Homo sapiens: one gene and its partner. The protein of the gene in region 1 interacts with the protein of each later gene in a pairwise test. Each region holds a gene or a part of one and is shown on either strand. Other genes may lie near its edges.

What was found.
Region 2: the proteins of LDAF1 (region 1) and ZNF391 interact in a two-hybrid assay, tested with the Homo sapiens proteins (one large-scale study listed by BioGRID).

Annotation. Positions count from the first base shown.
Region 1 is NC_000016.10:21,168,645-21,172,299, reverse strand, and holds part of LDAF1 (lipid droplet assembly factor 1), read right to left. Parts: intron 1,864-3,655; coding exon 1,695-1,863; intron 1-1,694. UniProt on the Homo sapiens protein: Plays an important role in the formation of lipid droplets (LD) which are storage organelles at the center of lipid and energy homeostasis. In association with BSCL2/seipin, defines the sites of LD formation in the endoplasmic reticulum.
Region 2 is NC_000006.12:27,391,604-27,395,258, forward strand, and holds part of ZNF391 (zinc finger protein 391), read left to right. Parts: intron 1-3,413; exon of another isoform or gene 3,414-3,492; intron 3,493-3,655.

The DNA.
Region 1 (3,655 bases):
AATTTTTTGTATTTTTAGTAGAGATGGGGTTTCACCATGTTGGCCAGGCTGGTCGCGAACTCCTGACCTCCAGTGATCTGCCCTCCTCAGCCTCCCAGTGTTGGGATTACAGGCATGAGCCACTGTGTCCGGCCTCTTTTTTTTTTTTTTTAAAGAGATGGAGGGAATCTCGCTATGTTGCCCAGAGTGGTCTTGAACTCCTGGTCTCAAAAGATCCAAAGTCTGTATTTTGATAAAGAAAGTAAGATTTATACACACTTGGAGCTGGGTGCAGTGGCTCACACCTGTAATCCCAGCACTTTGGGAGGCCGAGGTGGGCAGATCACTTGAGGTCGGGAGCTCAAGACCATCCTGGCCAACATGGCGAAACCCTATCTCTACCAAAAATACAAAAATTAGTCGGGCATGGTGGGGCATGCCTGTAATCCCAACTACTTGGGAGGCTGAGGCAGGAGAATTTCTTGAACCTGGGTGGCAGAGGTTGCAGTGAGTTGAGATCATGCCACTGTATTCCAGGCTGGGCGACAGAGTAAGATTCCATCTAGAAAAAAAAAAAAGATTTAAATACACTCAGGTTCAAGAACCACTATTCTAGAGGCTTTGCACATGCTGTTCCCCTGTCCAAAAGGCCCTTCCTTGCCCACCCTGAGGCAAAGTTGTTATGCATCCTTAAAGTCTTGTCTGCTGTAAAGCTTTGCATGGTACCACCAAAATGTAATGGCTCTCTCCTTTCTCTATAAATTTCCTTTCTTATGGTACTCATTCATTCCTCCATCCATTCATTCATGCATTCACCCATCTATCTATCAACATTTACTCAAAAACCACTCTGCCAGGCTGTATTTGGCTCATCCACTGACCATGCCTACTTTCTCCTTCAAGTGTAAACTGCCTTGTCCCTGGGGCAAATAAACAGCCCTGGGTGCTCTTAGCTCTGGGAAGCCACGGAATGGACCAGAAGTGATCACCTGACCCACTGGCCACCATCTCTTTGGCCACTTGCCTGGGGTGTGTGATCTGATTTGAAAAGTCAAAGTGAGCAAATCAGATTTGCTTTCCCAGTAATTTTAACTTAGGAATACAGGGAGAAGTTGACTGTTGGTAGTGGAACTTCAGGAGGAAGGATGAAGGTGGTCTCCAGTACCTAGCGAGGCATCTGGCATGCAGTAGGTGCCCAATAACTCACTGTGGAATGAATGGCCTCTCTGCTTAATAATAATAGCTAGCATTCATTGAGAAGCTACTCTGTGACATGTATTGTGTATTGTGCTAAGGACTTTATGGAGCCATAAGTTTCAATCTTCACAACAACCTTTTGAGATTGTATTATTATATCTGCATTTTACATATTAAGAATTTAAGGCTCAGAGAGGTAAACCACTTGCCCCAAATCACAGTGGTGGAGGTGGGATTTGAATGCAGGCTCCAGAGTCTATGTTTTACCTACTCTGATAAGTTGCCTTGCTTGATGTGATTTTGACAAGAATGGCAGACAACCAGGCATGGTAGCCCATGGCCATAATCCCAGCACTTTGGCAGGCCGACGTGGGAGGATCACTTGAGCCCAGGAGTTTGAGACCAGCCTGGGCAACATAACAAGACCCCGCCCCTTAAAAAAATTTTTAAATGGCCCCAAAAGTATTTTTCTCCCAATTGAATTATTTTCTAAAGGGGTGAATGACGGAACAGGCTACCTTCCAATATTATGACCCCCAGCAGAGCAGCCAGGGTGGTAAGCACCACGATGAGCAGGAAGAATCCAACAGGAACGGCCGACATGACAATGAACACCAGCAAGGTGAAGGCCAGAAACGGATGGCTGTCCAAGTACTGACCCACTGGAGACTTCATAAAGGCCACCACCTGTAGGCAAAGGACAAAGAGCCAGGGATAAGTAACACATCGGAACCCCAGGTTGAATGAATCTGCCCAAGCTGTGGGAATTACAAGGCAGAAGTCGTAAAGCCAGAAGGCTTATGCATTAACAAGTCACTACAGGCCGGGTGCAGTGGCTCATGTCTGTAATCCCAACACTTTGGGAGGCCAAGGCGAGCGGATCACCTGAGGTTGGGAGCTTGAGACCAGCCTGACCAACATGATGAAACCCCCGTCTCTACTAAAAATACAAAATTAGCCAGGCACGGTGGTGTGTGCCTGTAATCCTAGCTACTGGGGAGGCTGAGGCAGGAGAATTGCTTGAACCTGGGAGACAGAGGTTGCAGTGAGCCAAGGTTGCACCATTGCACTCCAGCCTGGGAGGCAGAGGTTGCAGTGAGCCAAGGTCACACCATTGCACGCCAGCCTGGGAGACAGAGCAAGACTCCATCTCAAAAATGATAATAAGAATAACAAGAGCGAAACTCCGTCTCAAAAAAAAAAAAAAAGTCACTACAACAAGACTTCTCCCAAGACATGAGTCACCCAGGCAGCTATCTTAGGCAGCTGTGGAGAGGTGGCAAGTCTGAGGTCCCCACCCAAGGTCAAGCCTTGTGAAAGGAGGAAAGACCCAGTCATGGCTCTCCTGCCAAACACACTCTTGAGAAGACCTCTTCGGCATAAAGGTGCATTGATGTAAGGTACATACCATCTGCCTCCTACTTTACAGCTGAGGTTCTCATAGTTGAAGCCACTCAGACACAAATAGGCTTAGCTACTTGGATCATCTAGGAGTTTGTTAGAAATACAGAATCTGGCTGGGCGTGGTGGCTCACATCTGTAATCCCAGCATTATGGGAAGTCGAGGCAGGAAGATTGCTTGAGGCCAGGAGTTTGAGACCAGCCTGGACAACACAGCAAGATTCCATCTCTACAAAAAATTTAAAAACTAGCTTGGCATAGCAGCACATACCCACAGTCCTAGCTACTTGGGAGGCTGAGGTGGGAGGATCACTGGAGCCCAGGAGTTTGAGGTTGCAGTGAACTATGGATTGCACCACTGCATTCCAGCCTGGGCAACAGAGGGAGATCTTGTCTCCAGAAAAAGGGGAAAAAAAAAGGAAATGCAGAATCTCAGGCCCTGATGAATCAGACTGCCTTTTAAACAAGATTCCCCAGGTGTCGTGCATACACATTAAAGTTTGAGAAGCAATGAACTAAGTCACTTGTCTAGAGTCGCACAGCCTCCAAGTTGCAAAATCTCAGCATTAAAAGCTAATCACTTGTCTATTATTAAGCATTAAAAGCATTATTATTATTAAAAGCATTATTAAAGTGATTAGCATTAAAAGCTAATCACTTGTCTATTATTATTAAAAGTATTATTACTATTAAAAGCATTATAATTATAATTATAATATAATAATTATATATGTTTATAATTATATATAATATAATATATTATATTATATATACTATAAATATAAATATTTAAATATATAAATATAAATAAATATAAATATATAAATATAAATATATAATATAAATTATAATTATAAATATAAAATATAAAAATATTTATAATTATATAAAATTAAATTATATTTAATTTTATATAAAAATATAATTATATTTATAAAAATATAAATATAAAAATATTTATAATTATAATATATAAAATAAAAATATAATATAATATTAAAAATATATATATAATTATATATAAAAATATAATTGTAATGTAATATAAAAATCATAATTATAATATTGTATAATTATA
Region 2 (3,655 bases), on another chromosome or scaffold:
GAAGATGGAAAGGCAACTGTCTACCTCTCCATAAGATCCATATTCCACATGAGTTAAGTATTCTTCCCTCTTTTCTGAACGTGTGTTTCATCATACCAACCAGAGACACATTTATTTCTCTTTTAAAGGAACTTCCGTTCTTAGATGAGTCTGCCAAATTTTGCCAAGGGGACTATTCTTCATTTGCCTGTTGACTGTCCTTAATATCTTCAACACTCCCTCACTCTAATTCATCATTAGATGATTAATGAACACAGGCTTTTTTTTGGCCTATTTCTTGAATGGTTTCATCTGAAACACGGACCTTGAGATCTTACATGTCTCCGAGGATTTGAAAAAGAGTAGATTCATTCTAGTTCTCTCCCCTTAGTCTAAGCAGATGGCTATGTGCCTCAAAGTTTGGGATCTAAAGTTAAACTACTAGGTATCCGATAGCTTTGGACCAATCAAGTCCAGCATCTTCATTTTGCAGGTGAGGAGACATAAAACCAGATTGTTTATTTTTCCCTGGTTTCTATATAGCTACCAATGGAGCTATAACCAAAATCCAGATTACCTAGTCAGTGCCTATAGCTCTGGGCCTCTATCTGATGTTTCCCTGAATTGTGCTGAGGATGCCACTTGCACTTCAGTGGAGGCCAGAGACTTTATTGATTTTATTTTTTTTGAGATGATGGAGTCTTGCTCTGTCGCCCAGGCCAGAGTGCAGTGGTACAGTCTTGGCTCACTGCAACCTCTACCTCCCAGGTTCAAGCAATTCTTCTGCCTCAGCCTCCTGAGTATCTGGCACTACAGGTGTGTGCCACCATGACTGGCTAATTTTTATATTTGTATTAGAGATGGGGTTTCACCATGTTGGGCTAGTCTCGAACTCCTGACCTCAGGTGATCTGCCTACCTCGGCCTCCCAAAGTGCTGGGATTATAGGTATGAGCCAAAGCCAGAGACTTTACTCCATCGGTTACATAGATAGGGCTGTTAGTGAGGCTGAGATTTACTGCAGCCTTTCAGGGACTGGGTCTGGGAGGCAGTCACTCTCTATACCCCTACAGCACTCTGAAGTCAAGATCATGCTGATAACCTTCTGACATCAGTGGAGTTTAGTTTCTTGGCCATTTACAGGCCGCTAAACAGAAAGTGTGATTCAGGCATTCTTTCCCTGTCTGTTGAGAAGCAACACATACTGTATAGTATAATGAGTTTGAATCTAGGATTTATTACTTGGCCTTGTGCCAAATTACTTAACTTCTCTGTACTTCACACTATTTTTTTGTATTGCAGGAATAATAATAATTCCCCTCAGAGTTATTGTGAACAATAAATGAGTCAATATTCATACAATTCTTAGAATAGGCAGGCCCAAAGAAAGACCATTTCTGGAGACTACTTCCAAGTTAGATTCCTTTCACAAGTTCTTTTTTCATTTTTTCTAGGTAGAAAGTTTCCCTAGTGGAGTTTGTATGTGTCTATCATATGTGTCACATGCACAAACACATCTAATGCATAATACAGTTGTATATATAATGAGCTTATTTGAAATGAAAAAACAACTACACTTTGAGACTCTTGCACTGTACAGTATGATATGGCTTGAATATGTGTCTCCACCAAATCTCAAGTTGTATTGTAACCCTGACAATGAGGTGATTGGATCTTACAGATTGATACCTCAGAGCTTGGTGCTGTTCTTGTGATAATGCATAAGTTCTCATGAGATCTGGTTGTGTAAAAGTGTGTGGTACCTCTCCACCTCTTCTCCTGCTTTTGCCATGTGATGTGCCTAATCCCCCTTTGCCTTCCACCATGAGTAAAAGCTCCCTGAGGCCTCCCCAGAAGCTGAGCAGATGCCATCACCATGGTTGTACAGCCTGAAGAACTGTGAGCCAGTTAAACCTATTTTCTTTATAAATTACCCAGCCTCAAGTATTTCTTTATAGCAATGCAAGAATGGCCTAATACAGCAAATTGGTACTGAGGAGCTGGCTTGGCTATAAAGATACTTAAAAATGTGAAAGGAACTTTGGAACTGGGTAACAGGCAGAGGGTGGAAGAGTTTGGAGGGCTCAGAAGATGGGAAGATGAGGGAAAGTTTAGAATTTCTTAGAGACTGGTTAAATGTTTGTGACAAAAATGCTGATAGTGATATGGACAGTGAAGTCCAGGCTGACAAAGTCTCAGATGGCAATGAGGAACTTATTGGGAACTAAAGCAAAGGTCATGTGTGTTATGCCTTAGCAAAGAACTTGGTTGCCTTGTGCCCCTGCCCTAGGGATCTGTGGAAGTTTGCACTTCAGAGTGTTGATTTAGGGTATCTGGCAGAAGAAATTTTTAAGCAGCAAAGGAAGATGTAGCCTGGCTCTTTCTAACAGTCTATCTGTCCTCAGATGTAGAAGCAAAGAAATGATTTAAAGTTGGAAGTTATATTTAAAGGGGAAGCAGAGCATAAAAGTTTGGAAAATTTGCAGAGGAAAGAAAAAAAAAGCTTTTTCAGCAGAGAAATTCAAGCAGGCCATGGAGCAACCACTTGCTATAGAGAGTTGCATAACTAAAAATGAGCCAAGTGCTAATAGTCAAGAAAATAGGAAAAAGGCCTCAAAGGCATTTCAGAAATCTAAGAGGCGATGCCTCCCATCATAGGCTGAGAGGCCCAGGAGGACTTAAGGATTTCAGAGCCAGATCCTGGGTCCCACTGCCCTGCACCACTCCAGGAGGCTGCTCCTAAATCCTGGTTGCTCAGGCTCCAGCCATGGTTCCAATGGGCCCAGGTACAGCTCAGGCTGCTGCTGTGGAGGGTAGAAGCTGTAAGCCTTGGTGGCTTCCATGTGGTGTTAAGCCTGTGGATATGCACAGTGCAAGAGTGAAGGAGGCTTGGAAGCCTCTGCCTAGAGTTAAGAGGATGTATGAGAAGGCCTGGGTGTCCAGGCAGAAGCCTGCTGTAAGGGGCAGAAGCCCCTTTAGAGAACCTCTACTAGGGCAGTCCAGAGGGGAAATGTGGAGTTGGAGGCCCCACACAGGGTCCCCACTGGGGCACTGCCTAGTGGAGCTGTAGGAAGGGGGCCACCATCCAGACCCCAAAATGGCAGATCCACCAGCAGCTTAGACTCTGTGCTTGGAAAAGCCACAGGCATTCAACAACCTGGGAGAGCAGCATGGGGCTGAACTCTGCAAAGCCACAGAAGTGGAACTGCCCAAGGCCTTGGGAACCCACCCCTTGCATCATTGTGCCCTAGATGTGGGACATATAGGAGCTTATTTTGGAGCTTTAAGATTTAATGACTGCCTTGCTGCATTTCAAGCTTGAATGGAGCCTATAGCCCCTTTCTTTTGGCTGATTTCTCCCTTTTACAATGGGAGTGTTTACCCAATGCCTGCACCTCCATTGTATCTTGGAAGTAAATAAATTGTGATTTACAGGTTCATAGGTGGAAGAAATTCATCTCCAGATGAGACTTTGGACTTGGACTTGGGACTTTTGAGTTAATGCCAGAATGATGTAAGACTTTAGGGGACTATTGAGCAGTCCCCTAAAAATACTGATTGTATTTTGCAATGTGAGGACTTGAGACTTGGGGGCCAGGAGCAGAATGATATGGTTTGAGTATATGTCCCCATCAAATCTCATGTTGAATTGTAATCACCAATGTTGGAGGTGAAGC